Regions from separate parts of the Homo sapiens genome. Here region 2 is linked to region 1. Evidence: fine-mapped expression QTL. A gene starts in region 1. The other region holds a variant in brackets. All regions are shown on one strand. Distances are between the middles of the regions.

What was found.
Region 2: its variant is fine-mapped to the expression of SIRPG in whole blood (TOPMed, PIP above 0.99).

What each region holds. Positions count from the first base shown.
Region 1 is chr20:1,652,492-1,662,477 of GRCh38, forward strand. It overlaps SIRPG (signal regulatory protein gamma), which reads right to left and starts at 5,288. Exons shown (of 6, transcript NM_018556.4): 1 at 5,151-5,288. The coding sequence starts at 5,223.
Region 2 is chr20:1,628,338-1,638,323 of GRCh38, forward strand. SIRPG (signal regulatory protein gamma) reads right to left here. Exons shown (of 6, transcript NM_018556.4): 3 at 7,851-8,168; 4 at 6,930-7,262; 5 at 1,885-1,969; 6 at 815-1,299. The coding sequence ends at 1,887. SIRPG-AS1 (SIRPG antisense RNA 1) reads left to right here and starts at 5,171. Exons shown (of 3, transcript NR_110090.1): 1 at 5,171-5,383; 2 at 8,869-9,013. RefSeq lists an enhancer at 6,753-7,578. The variant A/T (reference allele first, on the strand shown) is at 6,245.

The DNA of each region.
Region 1 (9,986 bases):
ATAAACCATGAACAAGTGGTATTTATTCCTGGAATATGAGTATGTTTCAATATACAAATGACAGACAAACAATATGGTATTCTACAAATATTTATTTATAGAATAAATAGAAAAAACACATGATCATCTATTTTGATGCAGAAAAGCATCTGGTAAATTTGTACATCTATTTACGATGAAAACAATAAAAAGGATATATGAATACTTTCACAAGATGATAACATTCACCTACTCATACTTTATTTTTATTGCACTTATCATTGTCAAAAATTAATTTTTTCATTCACCTATTTATCATGTGTATTGATTACTGTCTTTCTCTGCAGTGGATGTAAGCAACAAAAGGGCAATTACTTTTTCTCTTTTATTCTACCAAAGTACCCCATGTTTTTATGTCAGATCCTGGCACATAGTAGGTATCCAATAGATATGTGTGTAATGTTTGAATTGCTCAGTGGGACATTTCCCTCGAAGACTGAAATCTTCTATTTTAGGTGGTTTGCTCCTGTGGAATTTGACAGAAAATGAGTTTCCCATGTAGAGGACTTAGTGAAAAAAAATCAGTTTGCAAACATACAGAAAGTAGAAGAGCCCAGAGAAGAAAACCACAATCTCCCTTCACACCACATTGCCCACTCCACACCCAAGAGCAGCAGCTGCAGAAATCTCATGGAATAGAATCAAGACCGGAAGTGTTTGAGTAATGGTGAAACCTGTGACCTCTAGAGTCAGAGTGCCTGAGTTCAAATCGTAGCTCTACCAGTTACCAATGAGTGAGCCTGGAGCACTTTGTGCTTCTGTTTTCTTATCTGTTAGGAAAGGTGACAAGAATATCTACCTTGTATATAATGATCACATGAAGTAAAAGAGGTAAGGCATTTTCAACAGTGTCTGCCACATGGTGAACGTTCAAAAATTGTAAAGTTATTGCTCAGTAGATTTCTGAGGCTTGGAGGCTTCAGTGGACATTAGATGACAAGGATAAGGATAAGGGTATGGATATGGATATAAATATAACTATAGTTATAGGTAATATAGGCAGACCTGTGTCACCTGTATCCCCACATTTTTTTCCTCATTTCTACCTTCATGGAAGAGGGAATTTCAGGATAAAAATGCACAGAAATTCTGCTTTGAGGGAAAATGCATTTTACCAAGAGAGAAGTTTGCTTATCTGTTGCTTCTATTAACAGATTGGAGGACTTTCAGTGGTAAGATTAGAGAAGTAGGAAGGAGGGAGAGTGGCTGGGCAATAGGGAAAACCACACATCTCTTCAATGTGCATTTCATATAGACTGAAAAAATGAGTTGAAGTTTACAGTAAAGAAAGTCTTTAAAATTCTGTGTGTGTTTCAGCATGGTCACATGAGATTTATCTCAGGAATGCAAGGATGGTATAACATTCATAAATCTCCAAATGTGATATGCTACATCAAGGCAATCTTGAGCAAAAAGAACAAAGATGGGGCCGGGCATGGTGGCTCATGCCTGTAATCCCAGCACTTTGGGAGGCCGAAGCGAGCAGATCACGAGGTTAGGCAATCGAGACCGTCTTGGCCAACATGGTAAAACCTTGTCTCTACTGAAAATACAAAAAATTAGCCAGGCATGGTGGTGCACACCTGTAGTCCCAGCTACTTGGGAGGCTGAGGCAGGGGAATCACTTGAACCCGGGAGGTGGAGATTGCAGTGAGCTGAGATCACACCACTGCACTCCAGACTGGCGACAGAGCAAGACTGCATCTAAAAAAAAAAAAAAAAAGAACAAAGATGGAAGCACCACACTGCCTAATTTCAACATTGACTACAGTGTCAAAGTAATCAAAATGGCATGGCACTGGCATAAAAAGAGATATATAGACCAATGGATCAGAGCAGAGAGCCCAGCAATAAACTCACACATTCACACTCAATTGACTATTGACAAAAGTGTGAAGAAAACACAATGGTGAAAGGTCTGTCTCTTCAAAAAGTGGTGCTGGGAAAGTTGGATATCCATGTGTAGGGGAATGAAATTAGGCCTTCTTCTCATGCCTCATACAAAAATCAACTCAAAATGGATTAAAGATTTAAATGTAAGATCTGAAACTGTACAAGAACTAGAAGAAAAGTTTCATGACATTGGTCTTGGCAATACATTTTTGGATTTGAGCCCCAAAGCACAGGCAACAAAAGCAAAAATAGACAAAAGGCATTAACAACAAACTAAAAAAGCTTCTACCCAGCCAAGGAAACAATCAACAGAGTGAAGAGACAACCTATAGAATGGAAGAAAACATTTGCAAACCATACATCTGATAAGGAGTCAGTATACAAAATATATAAGGAAGTCAAACAACTCAACCATAAGAAAACAACCCTATTAAAATATGGGCCAAAGATCCGAATAGACATTTCTCAGAAGAAGACATTAAGATGGCAAGTCAGCGTATAAAAAAAAATCCAACCTTACTATTCATGAGATAAATGCAAATTAAAACCGCAGTGGGCTATCATCTCACACCTTTAAGAATGGCTATTATCAAAAAGAGGAAATTTAGTATTGGAGAAGATGTGGAGAAAAGGGAACCCTTGCAGACAGTTGGTGGGAATATAAATTAGTAGAGCCATTAGTGAAAACAGTATGCAGGTTCCTCAAGAAATTAAAAATATAACTCTTATCTGATCTGGTAATCTCACTACTGGCATATATCCAAAGGAAATGACATCAGCATGTCACACATATATCTGCACTCCCATGTCCATTGCAGCATTATTTACAAAAGCCAAGATATGGAATCAACCTAGGTGTCTATCAGCAGATAAATGGAGAAAGAAAATGTAGCATATATGCACAATGAAATTCTAATCAGCCTTACAAAAAGGGAAACCCTGTCATTTGCAACAACATGGATGAACCTGGAGGACATTCTGCTAAGTGAAATAAGCCAGGCACGGAAAGACAAACACTGTATGATTTCACGTATGAAGAATCTAAAAAGTTGAGCTCATAGAAGTAGAAAGTAGAATGGTGTTTATCGGGGGCTAGAGAGGGGGTGTAGTTGGGGAGATATTAGTCAAAGGATACAAAATTTCAATTTAAATAAGAGAAATAAGTTCAAGATATCTATTGTACAATGTGGTGTTTATACTTAATAATATGAATTGTATTCTTGAAAACTGCTGAGAGAGCAGAGTTTACGAGTTCTCACAATAAAAAATGATAAATATGTAAGGTAATGCATATGTTTATTAGTTCAAATTAGTCATTCCACAATGTATGCATATTTCTTAATATGTTGTACATAAGTATACATACTTTTGTCAAATAAAAATAAAATAAAATATTTATTTTGTTAAAAATTTCACTGAAAATAGAAAGAGAACCAATGATTAAAAATGAAATCTCATCTGTGCATGTACATGTACATGCATAGGCACATGTGCATATATATGTGTATATAATGTGTATATATACACATTCACAAATATATATAAAAGTTTGGCTTATCATGTTAGTATATAAGGTTGTTTTGTGCATTAATTACAATTATGACAAATTTAAAAATCTCAGTAAAATATTTGGCACATAGAAACCATCCAACACATTTTTAACATTTTGGGAAAACATACATACACTAGTGTTTTACCTCTGATTGTTTCTGACTGGTGTGATGGGTGATTATTAATCTAATGTTTGCTTGCCTGCATTTTCTAATATTTCTACACATAGCATAACATGGTTAAAAGGGTGATAAACTCTGGAACTGGTCAACCTGGACTTGATCCCAACTGCTCCATGGACTGAAGTAGGGGACAATGAACAGGTTCCTGCCTCTGCCTCACTCCCCATTTGCAAATAGAGCACAAGAGTTATAGCTTCCACACAGGGATGCTGTGAGGATTAGTTGACTTAATACACACAAAATGCTAAGAAGTGCATCTGCCTTACAGGAAGAGAGCAATTGCTGAACTATTACTGCTGTCATTTGGGTACAGTGTATGTGTAAAAAAAATAATTTGAAAAGTGAGACCTTGCCCTCTAAGACCTGTGAGATGACATCACAGCAGGGCCCAGTGGGCAACTGAGAGGCTATTGTGCCCAGCCCTGTGACCGGGGGTCAGCTGCATGGTCTGAAAAAGGGGTGAAGACAGGCAGCCTGTCTGGGAGCTGTGAACAGGGCTCTCTCAGGTGGCACCAGGAAAGACCTCCCAATCCTGTCTGCCTGGGGGAAGGGAAAATAAATTCTCCAGAGGAAAGTCAAGATGACCAAGGGAGATGGTGGTGCCTGTTATGGGCTGAATGTGCCCCCAAAACGAATGGGTTGAAGCCCCAATCCCCAGCGCCTTAGAATTTGACCATATTTGGAGACAAGGTCTTTAACCCATTTATGCCCGAGGTTGCAATTTTTTTTTAATTTGAAAAATCAGACCTTGGCGATGCCCTTGAGCAGTAGGATATAAATAACTCCCGCAAGCTTAGTGATCCAATAACGGAGCACTAGGCATAAATGGGTGAAGCAATTTAGTTAAATGAGGTCACTGGCGGGGAGCCTTAATCCAATATGGCTGATGTTCTCATAAGAGAAAATGAGAATACAGACACACACAGAGGAAGACCATGTGTCAAGACACATGGAGGAGATGGCCTTCTACAAGCCAAGGAGAAAGACCTCAGTAGAAACTAACCCTGCTGGCATCTTGATTTTGCAATTCAGCCTCCAGAACTGAAAGAAAGAAAGTAAATGTCTATTGTTTTAGTTACTGAGTCTGTGGTGCTTTGTTGTGGAAGCCCTAAGAAAGGAATATAGGACGCTGTAAGCATGAAATGTGGAACTTCTTAAAGAGGAGGAGGGCACACAAAAATGGGTAGGAGGACTCAAGACAGGTAAGGATTTAATAATGATTCTTCTGTGTTTGTCAAATAAAATATTATAAAAATGTAACTAATTGTGATGGTGGCAGAAGCCTCACAAGGTTTGATGCCTCTGGTAGCCAGCTGCAGATCCACAGAGAAAGTGCTCAGCTCCCTGATCTTCTGCTCTTGGACAATGTCCAGTCCTTGACCTTCCTTGGCAGTGCTTGTGCTTATCTGAAATTGCTGCAAGTCCAGGGGCAAGGCTAGGTCCAGGAAGCAGGGAGAAAGGGTTCTAGCCCAATGCAATGCTCACCTGTAAGTCCCAGCAGTAGAGTCAGAAGCAGGAAAGGACCAGGAGGATGGGGCCAGGAGGCTGGGACAGGCATTTTGGAGACCTCAGAAGCCTGCTCTGTTCAAACGTCTGTTCTGGGGAGATGTCAGGCCCTGCTCTGAAGACAGAAGACAAGCCCTGCCTCCCTCAATTCAAGAGGAAGTGGCTATGATGGAATGCAACAGTAACCTGCTTCTAGATTGTGACTTACAAATCAGGCACAGTAGGCAGCTACAAAGCAAGGAGTTAATCGTGCTCCATTTTCAGGATAATCAGACAGGGTTAGCAGAAATAATGCTTCCTGCCTGCCTGGGACCTGTGCTCCCTCCTCGTGTCCCCAAACCCATTTTCAGGTCTTCTTGGTGATTTGCCATTTGAGGCTTTTAAGTCAAGAAAGATCTGTTGTTAGGTATTGTTTTCTAAAGTCTTTATTTCAAGACCCTAGGATGTGGTTGGCTTGTGGTCTTGTTCTGCACCAGCCTCAACCAAATGCCACTCCGCTGGACGTAGGAGAAGAGTTCACAGGACCTGCTCAACACTGGAGAGGAACCAGATCTTCTCCTGAAATGATTTTCTATTCCAAATTGCTATAATTGGCAACACTTAGCCCAAATTCAGTCTCTTGTGGACCTTAGCACTTTCATGTGCCTGCACCCAGCAGAAGGAATTATTTCTTGACTCCTTCCAGGAGAGAAACTGGGTTTGAGGTAATAAGCAACTGCTTTGTGGAGTGAGGTGGGGATTGTGGGTTATGGAAAGGGGATAGGGTTATCATGAGGGAAGATTATGGTGGGCAGGTTCCTGGGGCCGTCGCATCAATTTCAATACCCTTTCTTCTACACACAGAGCACCTATTTCATTCATCACTGAGTTCGGATGGGAAATGAGGAAAGAGGAAAAATCCATGCTCCTGCCAAGAGTGTGTGCCAAGGAGTTGGGGAAGTCGCTGGGCCCTCCTATGCTCAGTTTCAATCTCCTAAACTGGGAATAGTAAGTCTTTTTGTGCAGTGTTTTAGTGACGATTAAAGAGGTAATGAGCATATCATGCCTGAAACCCAGTAGGTCATTATTGATACTCACGGTGCCAGGTGAAGTGCGGGAACTCAAATGTTGCTTTTGAATGGATCCCTCCTGCATGCTGAGTTGCCCACCAGTGGCTTTCTCCCAGCAACCCAGGCCTCCTGAGACCCAGCTTATATAGTGTATTTGGACTCTCGCTGCCACCCTGAAATCAGTTTCTCCCTCTGGATTCTCTAAATCCCGCTCCTTGTTCAACCATAGATTAATTCCTCCTCTTACAATTTCCAGCTGTGTGATTTTCAAAAAGACACTACTTCTCTGAGCCTTGGTTTGATTGTATGTAAATAAATGTTAGAATATGCACCTTGTAGAGCTATGGTAGGAATAATATAAGCCATACTGAATGCTTGACTCATAATTAATTATAAGCAAAAAAACATGGCTATAATTATTTTCTGTGTACAGGAAGAGTCCACTGGTTCTCTGCCACCGTTGTGCCTTAGAAAAGCCACCTTGTTAAAAGAAATGATTTCTCTTCCAGCATCTATGACTAAGAAAGACCTGTCCAGAATCCTTCATCTCACATGTGGGTTTTAGGTTCTTAATCTGTCATGAATAATTGTCAAATCAAATTGTAAATGTTATCATGTTTTAATTGAAAGTCCTGTTTTAATGTGGCAGATGTACACAGGGTGAAATCTTCCCCTCCTTCTCCACACCCACAGTAGTGAAAACACAAAATGAAAAGAATATATGAATCAATGTCTAATTACACTTGAATACAAGCAATTGGCTTCTATATGACATGAAGGAATTATAACAGCTATCATTTATTGAGAGTTTCCTGTGCTCCAGATATGGTGCCAAGCATTTTTCTATTGGTAATGTCATTAAATCATTGCTCTGACCCCATGAGGTAAGCTCAACCATTAACCTCCTTTCACAGGTGAGAAAACCCGAGGCACATGGAGAGTAATGAATTTGCTCAAGATCACCCGGCTTTTAGAACTGGAACATAGGCTGCCACACTCCACAGCCTTCACTTTTAATGGTTGTACTATGATACCTCTTGCAGGAAGGGAGAGACATCCCTCAGGAAGAAAGCAGAGAAGAAGCTATAGCCTCAATTAGGAGCAGCCCTCATAGTGAGGCTGGGGCAGGTGCCATGCTCCACGAGGCCCTGACAACCCATGATCACATGGGGAATTATTCCTGGGAAGACGGAAGTGCAAGCAAGAATCACCAAAGATTTGAGGAACAGCACTGCAGCTAACAAATTCAAGAAAAACAATAACTCAAAAACAAATAGCAATCAAAAGAACTTCACACCTGAGCAAATATGAAAAAACAAAATGTGTAAAGTTCTTTAAAGTTAGTATACTTAATGATCTTATAAGGAAAACAAAAGAGAAGTAAATTCATAAACCAACATCAGGCATGTAATAATATGAAACAGAAATAGGCGGGCATGAGGTAACAACAACCATCTTGAAAAAATACCAAAACACAGACTTTGGAAATGAAAACATAATCAGTGCTGAAATTTTTTAAAAAAACTTAATAGGTTGACTAGCTGACTATACATAAATAAGTATAATAGTAAGTTAGTAAGCTGGGTGATTATGTAGGGGAAATTTCCTGTGGTACAGCACAGAGACACACCCAAACAAAGTAATGTGGATAGGTAAAAATATACCACAATATTGTGGTATATCTTTTCCTATTGCTCTATTTTTACCTATCCACATTACTACATTACTTTGAGAGGTGTGAGTCATAAAGTATTATGTCTCCAAAAATAAGAATTGGGCGTATATGACTCAAAAATGCATAGTATAGTGTCAGGAAGATGGCAGAATCTGTGCTTAGAGCAGCAAGTGCCTTCCTGTGAACTTCAATCCTTCAGTAAAGATCAACTAAGTACACAGATGCTTACAATTTTTGTGGAAATCACGTGGAGAATTGAAATTTAAATTTAGGTGACTTGGGGAAGCATAGATAAAATCTGAATGTTTGAGAGGACCAGGAACCTGGGAGTCCATGAGCCAAAATTCTCCTTTATCTGCCATATTTCACCCTGACTCATCACAGCAGGTGCAGATAACCAGGGACGACTTTGGGACACATGAGAAACTGGGAGCCAGTGGATGCTCCAGAAGACTAAAGATGTAAGACTGTGGGCTTAAGAATCAAAACTTCCTGGTCTGAAATCCAGCTCTAATGGGTCCCAGCTGTGTGATCCTGGGGTCACTATTAACTTCCCTGTTTCCTGAGTTTCCCCAAGTGTACAACGGAGAGAATAATCATACCATCTTCATAAGTTTGTGATGAGAATTAAATGAACTAATATATGCAAATTACTTAATACTATCTGACCATGTCCTCCAAAAGTTATATATTCAGTATTACCATTATCATTATAGATAGTAGTTAGATATTATCGTTATTAGGTAGTGTTTTGGTAATAGCAACAATTTTAAAAAACAGATCCTCTGCCCTCAAGAATTTATGATGCTGTGTGACAACCTTGGCCAGTGGCTGGTGGAGGTGGAGTACGACGATGATGAGCTGAGGTCATGTGCCCAGCCCTAGAATCATGGAGTCATTACCAGCACCAGGGGCATGCTATAGGCATGACGTCTGGGGGAATCAATATGACCCCAGTAAGGGTCTACTCAAATGCTCATGGAAAAGCTGTTCCAAATCTTGTCTCATGCTGGGATGGGAGAGAAGAAAATGCTCCCAAATGTAAATCAATAGGAGCAGGTAACATGGGCTGAGAGGGTGAGGAGACACCATGTAGAAATACACTCATGTAGAGCAGGCTGCACTCACTCACCTGTGAGTCCTGGTAGCAGAGGAAGTGGCAGGGGCTGTCCAGATGGGCTGGGAGACAGGGATGGACATTGCCTGCCCTGTCAGACTGTCTCATGGAGAGAATCCAGACTCTACTCTGCAGGAAAGGAGGGCATCTGCTTATCTGCTATGTTGTCTGAGGAGTGAGGTAGCTGTAGGGAGAAAGGGCCATGAGACTGGGACAATCCTCCATTGTGAAAGAGGAAGTGGACACAGTTGCCATCTCTGGGAAGTTGTGGATGTCTGTGCTTGGGGTTCCCAGGCCTGGGTAGATTTAGCCAGTACTGGAGAGAGGTCCACTGCCCCAGAACCTGCTCTCTGTTTCAGAGGCACTCATCTCATGCCAGGGGTCCCATGACCCTTCCTCATTGACAGCCCAGACCAAGAGGGCTCTGTAGCTAAGGACTGAGCTTGCAATTTCAGAGACCATAATTCCAGATGTGGCACATTTGAGGGCTTGTGGCTGTAGCAGCTTTCTGGGATGAAACCCAGTCCCCTGCACAACCCCTGCAAAAAGTCCCTTAAGTCAACACCAAGGAACCAGCTGAGCAAATCAAAAGTGACATTTCTTCTTAGATCTGTCAGAAAAACGAGGTCACAGGGCAAACCACTGTCCCCAGAATTGAGGAGTTGGGCAGGGTAATATAGAGAATCACAACTTCCTGAAGCCAAAACCTCTGTGGGAACCAGTGCCGGGGAAGGAAAGCCTGCACTGTAATTGAAGAATTTCTTGAGGCTCAGTGTGGGCCAGTCTTAGACACAAACTCGAGGAGGACCCAATAACGGAGGTCTCCCACACTTTTGTGAGTTTTATCTCTGGGAGCTTGGTTAGCTCGTCAGAGTGAATATAGGAGAAATATTCACTTGTGCTCCCAGGACACGGAAAGGAAAAGCAATCACTTAAAAATATACCAGAGTGTCCTATTGTTCTTTCGCTTGTTC
Region 2 (9,986 bases), 24 kb before region 1:
TTCTTGCAATCTTGCACTGCTGTGAAAAGCGAGGGCTGCCTGTATTCGTTATAATGCTTATGGTAATAAATGCTAAATAAAAATTAATCAAGATAAGAGAAATTAGAATGCCAGGGTAGACAGGAGAATTGATATTATGTACAGGGTGGTTTGCCAAAGGTGCCTTTAATAAAGTGACATTGAGCAGAGGCTTGAAGGAGGGATGAAGGGAGCCATGCAGCTGTGTTGGGGAAGAAGCAGAGGAGTGATACAATTTGACTTTTCCAAAAATCCCTGTAGCTGAAAAATGAAAGCCAACAGAGGCTACAGAAGTGTTCCCGGAAGAGATGATGCTGGCCGGGACAGGGAGGGGTGATGGAGGTGAGAAGTGTGCAGGTTAGGGATGTAACTCAGTGCTCTCCTGCAGCAGGCTTGGACTGGCCCCTGAAAGCCAACCGTTAAGTTTCAGGAATTTTGCAATCCAGTTGTTAAACTTCTGGTAGCTTGAAACTGGCCATGTTGGGGGTGATTATACCACAGAAATTGTCAAGTACAACAAATCAGCTTTTTTTTTCCTTTAAGAGAGTCCATTTTTAAACACTTACCATCTCACGAGTGGACATAAGTATTTTGAAGGCAGAATTGAATATGGGGTGTAAAGAGACATCAGGGAGGATTCGGGAGTCAAGGAGGCTTTTGGACTGCGGCAGCATTTCCGCCATGAGCAGCAGGGCGGGGAAGCCTGCAGGATGCTAGAACTAGTGTTCCCATCACAGAGAGAGCAGGGAGAGCTTCTTTGTTTCTGAGTGTGAGGAGTAGGACCCTTAGACAAAGAGGAAGGATAATCTTTTTATTTTCTTAAAACCACTTTGGGAGTGCATTTGTATTCAAGAGGCAATAGAGAACCTCAACAAGGCTGGGGAGTTGGGATAGGCAGGAATCTGGAAGGCAGGATAACTCTTGAGAACCTGGAGAGCGTCTGTGGTTTACGGTCAGTCTCAAGGCGATGGATGGGAGTCCTGGTGTGTTTAGATTTGGCATGTTTCTCGCCTTCTAGGGAGGTGCCGTTAAGTCAGTGCCCAGAGCCCAATCCCATGGCACCTGCTCAGGACCATGAATGAAGACCTTGCTCTGGGGCATCCAGGTCTGTGTGAAGGAGCAACAGGAGCCTGTGGGCAGGCAGATGTCTTGGGAGGGGAGATGTTTGGAGCCAAGTCTAGAGAAGCTTCTCACTGGCTCATTCTCTCAAGCTGAGCCTCTCAGGAAAGGAAGGAGGCAGCAGAGATGAGGGTCCCACGTGGCAGGGGAGGAAGGAAGGAGCTGTAGGAAAACACATCCACACTTAGTCATCTGCTCATCTTTCAAGACATGTTTCCTGAGAGTCTGTTATGTTCTCGGGGCTGGTCTCCTGGGATACCTGTCACTGGTGGACAGGCAGTCCTGATAGAACTCTGCCTGCTCAGCCATCCTGCCAAGTCCTGATGCCCTTTCCAATATTCCTTCCACTCAGACACACAGAGGGTCAGAGCACAAACAGCCTTCAGGGCTTCCCATTTGGGTTTCTCAACATTAGTTTACAATGTGGATTTCTCTGACCCCATGGAGTCCCAGCATTCAAATAATCTACAGATAGCCTGCAAGGGACCACCCACTCATCACTGCCTCCATGAAACTCCTAGGGCACTGTGGACATCTTTGAACACATTTCAAGCATCCCACATTGTACACCACCCACATAATTTCTGTGGGTTGGGAGCCTTTTAAAGGGTTCCCCAAGACTTCCGAGGGTGCGGAGGGAGCTTAACTCCACGGACCCTGGTGCTGCATGGCATGTGGGCTGGGCCTTCCTGTTGGCCTTGCCCTTCTGAGACAGCCCTTGGTCTGTCCTCCCTTCCTTGTACTTACAGTCAGGTCTTCTGCTTCCAGGGGACGTAGATGGGGCCCAGGAGGACAGCTATGAGGAGCAGCGCAGTAAGGGATGATGCCGGGCCTGGAAATCAGGGAAGACGAGGGGCTATGAGAGAGACCACTTGGGAGGCCATTGTAGGGGCCTCCACTTACCCCATCTGAGGCTGCCTGGGCCCATCTATGCCCCACCTTTGAACCTGCATCCTGCCCAGGCTATCTTCACTCCAGCACAAGGCAGAAGCCACAGAAAGAGGCTCCCCATTCTCACTCATCCTGTCCCAGGTTGCCAGCTTATTCTCCTGGAGGGAAGAGGTGGAGGGGGTGTGTACTCAGGTATTCATACATGTGGCAACGGGGTTCCTCACTTGACCCTCACAAGCCTATGGGAGCAGGGATTGTCATTCCATTCTGCTAGGGAAACTGAGGCCCATGGATTTTAGGGAGGGTCACAAGGTTACTTGCATTCAAACCTAAAGAAGCTCATCACTAGTGTTCCTTAGGTTGATCCCTGAGACCATGTCCTTTGGAACAAAACAAGTCCAAATTCCTAGGGACATTTTAATGACTATAAAAGGGTAGGCAGGTGGCTTGAGGATGGCTTCACAATGAGAGTTGCAGGTTCCCTGCTTAGCCCCAGAAGTAAGGGGAGGACTCCGTGTTCTCAGAACTTGGAGGAGCCATGGAACACTGGACATAATGAAACCTTCCGGCTAGAAAACATCCTGGTGAGTCACGGAAATGGGTCTCATGCTTGGGAGGGCCTCAGATGTCACCTAGGCCACCTCCACCCCAGTGCAGGTGTCATCTGAAATCTTTCTGTTAGTTGGGCACACTCAGTTACGGGGAAGCACATGTTTGGACGCTGCATTTTTAACATGAGCAGTTCAGGCTTTTAAAATCAACATTTTTAACGCGAGCAGTTTGGGCCATTAAAGATATTACAGTATATTTTAAATAAATAAAATGGTGCTGGTGGGTCCTTAAGGAAGAAATGGAGAACTCAGCATCTGTGGCTGCTGGGGTGTTGGAGGCCGGCAGTTCTCAGCTGGGTGGCTCTCTGGGACTTCTTCTCCCTTGAGGAAAGCTGCACTGCCCAATTCCAAGTTCACTCCTCCTTCTAGGGGACAGCCCACAAGAAAGATTGGCTGAATTGAAAATAGGAAGGCCACGCTTCTCTCCTCAATTAAAAAACACTACATGACGCTCTCAGCCCTTGGGATCCTCCGCAGGAGCAGCTGGGTCTTTGTTCTACCTGCACTGTAGCTCAGCACCTCGCTCCTCCTACAGTCCTGCCTCCCCATTTCCTGAGGCATGCTGACCCTACAGCTCTTCAGGATGCTTCCTGCATTCCTGTATCCATCTCTAGTCTGCCTTACAGAGAAACTGACCTTGGTAAGTTGTCTGTAAAGCTTACTCTAAAATATAAATTTGAAGCCTGAATACTCATCAGCTCGCAATGAGGACCTCAGGGCTGGCAGTGAGTGGGGCTGGGCACCATGGCTGGGATGCAATTGATAAAACTTTCACTGGCAGTAAGCTGGGATGGCGTAACCACAGGCAGGAAATTCCTTGGCATCAGGCTTTTGAAACAAATTGGGAAATGGTAGTTATAAGGACTAACTTGTTCCATGGCTATCACTGGGCATATTTTTTTTGGGGAAATATGCTGAGAAGCTACGAGTGATTGATTATGAGTTAAGGTTCAGCGTGAAAGCAAGAGGACTTCTTGGCAGCACTGCACTTTCTTATCTCTTGTGGCTAGAGGGCAGAAAGAATAGAGGGTTGGGCCCTGGACATCATTAAAAGAGTAGCAGAATCACAGAGGAGGATGAATCTCAGCTTCAACGGTTGCTATGCTGGGGTAGGGCCCTGATGGGGAAGTTGTGGGACCCTGAGATGTGGGAGTGGACATTTGGGTCAAAGCACTCAAAGATCTTCGGTTGACTTAAGAGTTGCTGGGTACAATTGCAGCAGCATAGCTACTTATCTGTATAAAATATCCTCCCCAAATCAAATAAAAAATGAAAACAAAGTAAGTTCTGCACAACCCTGGCTCTCAGTATTACTTGAAGAGAGAAAGCCAAACTGCAAAATGACCGTGAGTCAAAACAGAACACTCACCTAACCCTAGTGCACAGTCTCTTACCCGGCTCCCACGCCACTGGTGCAGCACTTATGTAACCACAAGGCATCTTGCATTTTACCTGCCAGCCTAGACAACTTAAAATGCATTTCCAGCCTTAGTACCTGAGCAAAGATGCTACATCTGGCAAACCGAAAGCACCCAAAAATGCCAGCCCTGGTCCTGGTCCAAGCCAGTGGGTGGATGAATAACTGAAAAGCAAATGCAATCCAGTCTTGATGGTGCAGTTTTACCTCCCTGAGAAGTAAAACTATGAACCCTAGAAACATCACAAGGATCAGGAATAGGAGAAATTCCAAGGTGGGAGAGGAAGAAGGGAGACTGACTAGGGGCCTCAGGACTGAGGGACAGCCCTGCAGCCAGGCACCTGGGACCCATCCCCCAACACCAGCCCCAGCCATAAACGGAGGCAAAGGAATGACATAGAAAAGAGCAAAAGCCTCAAGTCAATTAAATCACCACTTCAAGAAACTAGAAAAAGTAGAGCAAAATAAACTCAAAGCAAGCAGGAGACAGGAATTAATAAAAAGAAGAGTGCAAAAAATGAATAAACTGGAAACACAAAAACAATTTAAAAACTCACGGAAACAAAGTGGTCCTTTGAAAAGACCAATAAAATGGAAAAAAACTATAGCAAGGCTGATGAAGAAGAAAACAGAAATGGCATATTTTAGATATGAGGTTGAAACAGGGGATATCGCCATAACCCTTCAGACACCAAAAAGATAATAAGGAGATATTATGAACAACTCTACACACAAAAATATGACAACTTAGATAAAATGGACACAAAATTCTTCAAAAGGCACGAGTTACCGGAACTCACCCAATATGAAATGAATAATATGAGTAACCCTAAACTACTGAGGAAATTGAATTTATACTTTTAAAACACCCCCAAAAATTCTTGAGGCCCAAGTGTTTCAAAGAAAAATACTGCAAAGCATTTAAATATGAATTAAAACCAAATTTAGTGCACAGAAAGATAGTCATAAAAGAAATTTGAGGAAAATTTGAATGTATACTCCATTTTAGATGATATAAGGGAATTGTTTTAATAATTTTATGAAATTTAGTGATTAAAAATTTGAAATTGTATTAACTGTAATAATGATACTGGTTTTGTTATGCTGTCTTTAGTCATAAGATCACCCAACTATGGATTCCATTTGGAACTGCGTGTACATGCATGACTGAGTTAGCTGTGGACATGATCACACGCCTTCCATACATCTCTGATTATAGAAGATATTTTTTGCCCTCCATTTCCTATATTTACTCTTCCAGCAGACAGGGACATGGAAAAATCCGTGACCTAGCACTGACCCAGCAGATAAGACTAACCACCATAAGGTATGTGGGAGGAACCTGGGCCTTTGAAAAGTCTCCTGGAGTTGAGACTCCTCCTGGTATTACACAAGAGGGAAGTAAGACATATTTTGGTCATACGGAGTGGAACACAGGCCAACTTCAGGTCCATGGGACAATGCCCAGCAGAAGAGGACTGTTTCTCTAACTAGCACAAATTTGCATTTTAGGCTGATACTGACCTTGTCCTCAGGGACCCAGATTTACTTTAATTAGTTTGAACCAATAACCCGATCTAAAGGCAAGAGGTCTTCAACAACATCCCCCATGACTTCCCAAGTCCTAGTTTCCCCTTCTTTAAAACTCCAGACTTACTGGGTGGTTGAAGCAAAAACAGAGATCATGGATGAATGGAAATTTGCACTTAGTAAATTTGCAGAGGGGTTTGTGATTATTGTTGCTCAAATATCACAATCAGGACACAGAAGAGGTCCGTTCTGTGACCATTCATGGTCACCTGCAGGCCTGGTACAGTTTTTTTTTTTTTTTTTGACAGAGTCTCGCTCTGTCGCCCAGGCTGGAGTGCAGTGGCATGATCTCGGCTCACTGCAAGCTCCGCCTCCTGGGTTCACACCATTCTCCTGCCTCAGCCTCCCGAGTAGCTGGGACTACAGGCGCCCGCCACCACGCCCGGCTCATTTTTTTGTATTTTTAGTAGAGATGGGGTTTCACCGTGTTAACCAGGATGGTCTCGATCTCCTGACCTCGTGATCCGCCCGCCTCGGCCTCCCAAAGTGCTGGGATTACAGGCGTGAGCCGCCAGGCCTGGTACAGTTTTAAACTACATTTGTCTTTCTGAAACATACACAGCAGATGTCAGGGTGTACTGGGATGAGGTCATAAATG[A/T]GGATGGAAAAGTTTGGATGAAACAGAAACAAAGCAGAGGTTAGAAAAAGTAGGGAGCACAAGGGTGGGCTGATGAGAAACGGGCACAACAACTCTCAAGGAATAAGGGAAGGCAAAGGACTCTATGAGAAGATGGTTCCCCCTGCCTGCCTCTTTGCTCCTTAAATATATATTTATGTACGCCAGGCGCGGTGGCTCACGCCTGTAATCCCAGCACTTTGGGAGGCTGAGGCGGGCGGATCACGAGGTCAGGAGATCGAGACCATCCTGGCTAACACGGTGAAACCCCATCTCTACTAAAAATACAAAAAATTAGTCGGGCGTGGTGGCGGGCGCCTGTAGTCCCAGCTACTCGGGAGGCTGAGACAGGAGAATGGCGTGAACCCGGGAGGCGGAGCTTGCGGTGAGCAGAGATCGCGCCACTGCACTCCAGTCTGGGCGACAGAGCCAGACTCCGTCTCAAAAAAAAAAAAAATTAAACATATATTTATGTCAAAAGTTCTATTAACTTGTGCATCAAATTCTTACTAGTCATGACTCTTCGCATGTGGGATTTGGGGGGATGGAGCTGACATTAAAATTTTACTTTGTATTTATAGACTTCTAGCTTATTTTACAGCAAGTGTGGATATTACTTTTAAAATGAGAGAAAAAGACAAAATTTAAAAATTTTGAGTAACCTCACCAGGGGTAGCATCTGAGCTCTGGTCCTTCTGGTGGACTGTGACCTCTAGGGCAAGGCGTTTGCTGACCGCCAGCTGCCCATCATGCTTCACCTGGCAGGTGAGGACCACATCATCCCTTTGGTCAGATATGTTCACCAGGAACCAGCTTGTCCAGTTGTAGGTACCATCCTTGTTCTCTGTAAGGGTCGAGGCTGTTTCTCTCTGGCACACGTTTCCATTCTCCGACCAGGTCAGCTGTAGGCTCTGGGGGTAGAACTTCCTCACCTGGCAGGTGACGTTTACCTGGTTCCCCACCCTCATGGGCTGTTGAGTAACCTCCAAGGTGGGTGGAACTGAAACAGCACAGGGTAGAAGCTCTGATCTTCTGGCACAGACAGATCACAGGGAGGGCTCCATAACTTAACTCCCACTACCACGGTGAGGGCATCACCAGGACAGTGCTAGGCAGGCAGCAGATGCTAAGACATTGAGGGCGCTCTTTGCATATGAATGAAATTACCAAGCACAGTGCCTGGTGCACAGTAGGTGCTCAAGGACTGGTAGCTCCTACTAGGCTAAGAATGAGTGAAATCTACAAGCACAACCCCTGGCATGCAGTTGGAATGTAAGAACTGTAGCAAAATCAGTGAAATCGCCGAGCACATAGGGACTTGGCTCATAGTAGGTACTCACTAATAGTAGTTGTTCTTGGTGAGATAAATGAAACTCTCTAGCGCAGAGCTTGGCACGTGATTGCTGGTCCCCTGACCGCTGCCAATAAAATGATAGTAAGTGACCAGCACACCTAGGTGCATGGCGGGCGGGCAGTATAGTCAGGGATTAGATTACAGGCCATTCAACCTCTGGAGCAACAGCCTGGGGAGAGGGGAGTGGGCTTGACAGCCAGGTGTGGGCTTGGGCTGGGTGTGAGGGTCCTCTACCTCGGATGGCCTCAGACAAGTTGGCAGTCCCACGAAGAGGGTCCCCCTGCAAGGTGACATGGGCCACCTCGCAGATGACCTGAGAGCGAACGTCCCAGGGGTCCAGTACCACCCTGGCTGTGCTGCGGATGCTGTAGGCCACACTCTGTCCTGTGGGGTCCACGTTGGTCTGGAAGTCTGAGAGCTCATTCCCATTTTTGAACCATTTCAGGGTGATGTCTCTGGGAGAGAAGCCATGGGACTCACAGGTGAAACTCACTGTATGCTCAGGTGTGGTCCTCGCCGCAGGGCCCAATACCACGGGGGCAGAGGGTTTGGCTACAAAAGGGGCATCGATAAACAGGAGACATGACTGAGATGACAATCACTAACGATGAGTGTGTGACACTGTTAAGAACCTTCAGATACATTAATTTTAATCCTTCTAATAATGTGGAGAGGATGGTGTTCTTATTCTCATTTTACAGAGCAGGATGCAAAGGTTGGAAGAGGTGACGACCAGCCCCAGGTCAGACAGTGTAGGGAAAGGTCCCAGAGGGAAGTCCAGGTCTGAGTTCAAAGTCCTCCTCTCCACATAGGGTGACTTCCACCAATCTGGGCACAGGAACAAAGTTACTGATTGTTCTCCCTCTGTGTATTAACTGGTGCTAGCCTGTTTCCCCAGGAGAGCTCACCAACCTCAGAGAGGGTGTTTACAGAAGCCAAAGTAGGGAACAATGGCAAAGTGGCGCCACCATGAGACCTGCAACCAGGCTGCTCAGCCCATGAGAGGGGTGGCCTGGAACATGCAGCCCCTCATCTGCAAAGTGGGACAGCAGCATTTTCCCTTCCCAGGGGTGCAACAAGGATTAAATGGGGCCATGGAAGAAGTTTTGCTTTGGATCAAAGTCAGAAGATGCTTCATAAAAATAAACACAGATCTGTCTTTAATCCAGACTTGACATATACCTAGAGCTCTCTCTCTTTGTGTATTTATGAATTTATTCCATATTTTTCATTCTTTTCACAAATATTCCAGTACAGTTTTTGAAAGAAAATGAAGTAGTTAAGGCTAAAGCTTTAACATGGAGTCAAGCGTTTGTAAGAGCATTGCACTCACACCTGCTAAAGGTCAAGCCACAGGATGTTGCTGTAGACCTGGATAACAATGGACTGAAGTCAAGGTACATGGGATTTTGATTTCTCTCATCCTGGAGTGTCCTAATTAAGTAACCAATTCATACGAGTTTGCAGTTTAGCATTTCTGCCAGGCAATGAACTGTTTTCAAAAACAACATTTTGTGAAAGTCCCCAGTACAAAACTTTTCCTGCATTGCCCTATGGGACACTGTTCAGGACTACCATGACTCAGGGTTCCCAAATTGCAACTCTTTATTTCCCAGATAAATGCTATTTCCTTTGGCCTTCCTATCAATCATTATTTTTTTTAGTTAGCAGGTCTAATCTGTGCCAAGTCCCAAATTTGAAAAGAGGGAAGGTTTCTTGGAATCTAGGTCTTCAGTTGGGCCAGGTTGGGTCCAAAAACAATGATCACTGAGTACTAAGAAAGCCAAAGGTGGGTGATTTCTTCATCGTTAATTCATTACAAGAGACAAAGATCTAGGCCACCCCAACAGGCAGAAATCTATCCTGGGTCCTGAAAGCACACAAACTGGAGAATCAGAAAAATGAGGGTAGTTTCTCCCTGTAGATGAGTCCTAAACGTGTCTCCAAATTGCTAATTATTACCCTGCACCTCCTATAGCAGTCATCAGGAAACACATATTAGGCATACTTGCATTTGTAAATATTAACTTGCTCCCTACCACATGCAAACATTTTATGGGCACAGTAAGAAGGGTGTCACTTGAAGAAGTCAAGTCATCAAGACACCAGCAGCATTGGGCATCCCTAGAGGGCTGAGAGGCTGTAACCAGTTGCCATTTATTGAGGGCTTCTTGGGAGCCTGATGCTGGCTGCTCCCTCTGTACCTCTCAGCTCTTTAATCCTCCCTTTATTGCCTTGAGGGGGTCCTCGTGTGAGTCCCTTATAGGACCAGGGTCTGAGGGGACCCCAGCTAGCAAAGGGCCAAAAGTGGATAAAAAACCCACCCTGGTAAGGTGAGGGAGGATGAAGGCAAGCACGGAGCCTGGTATG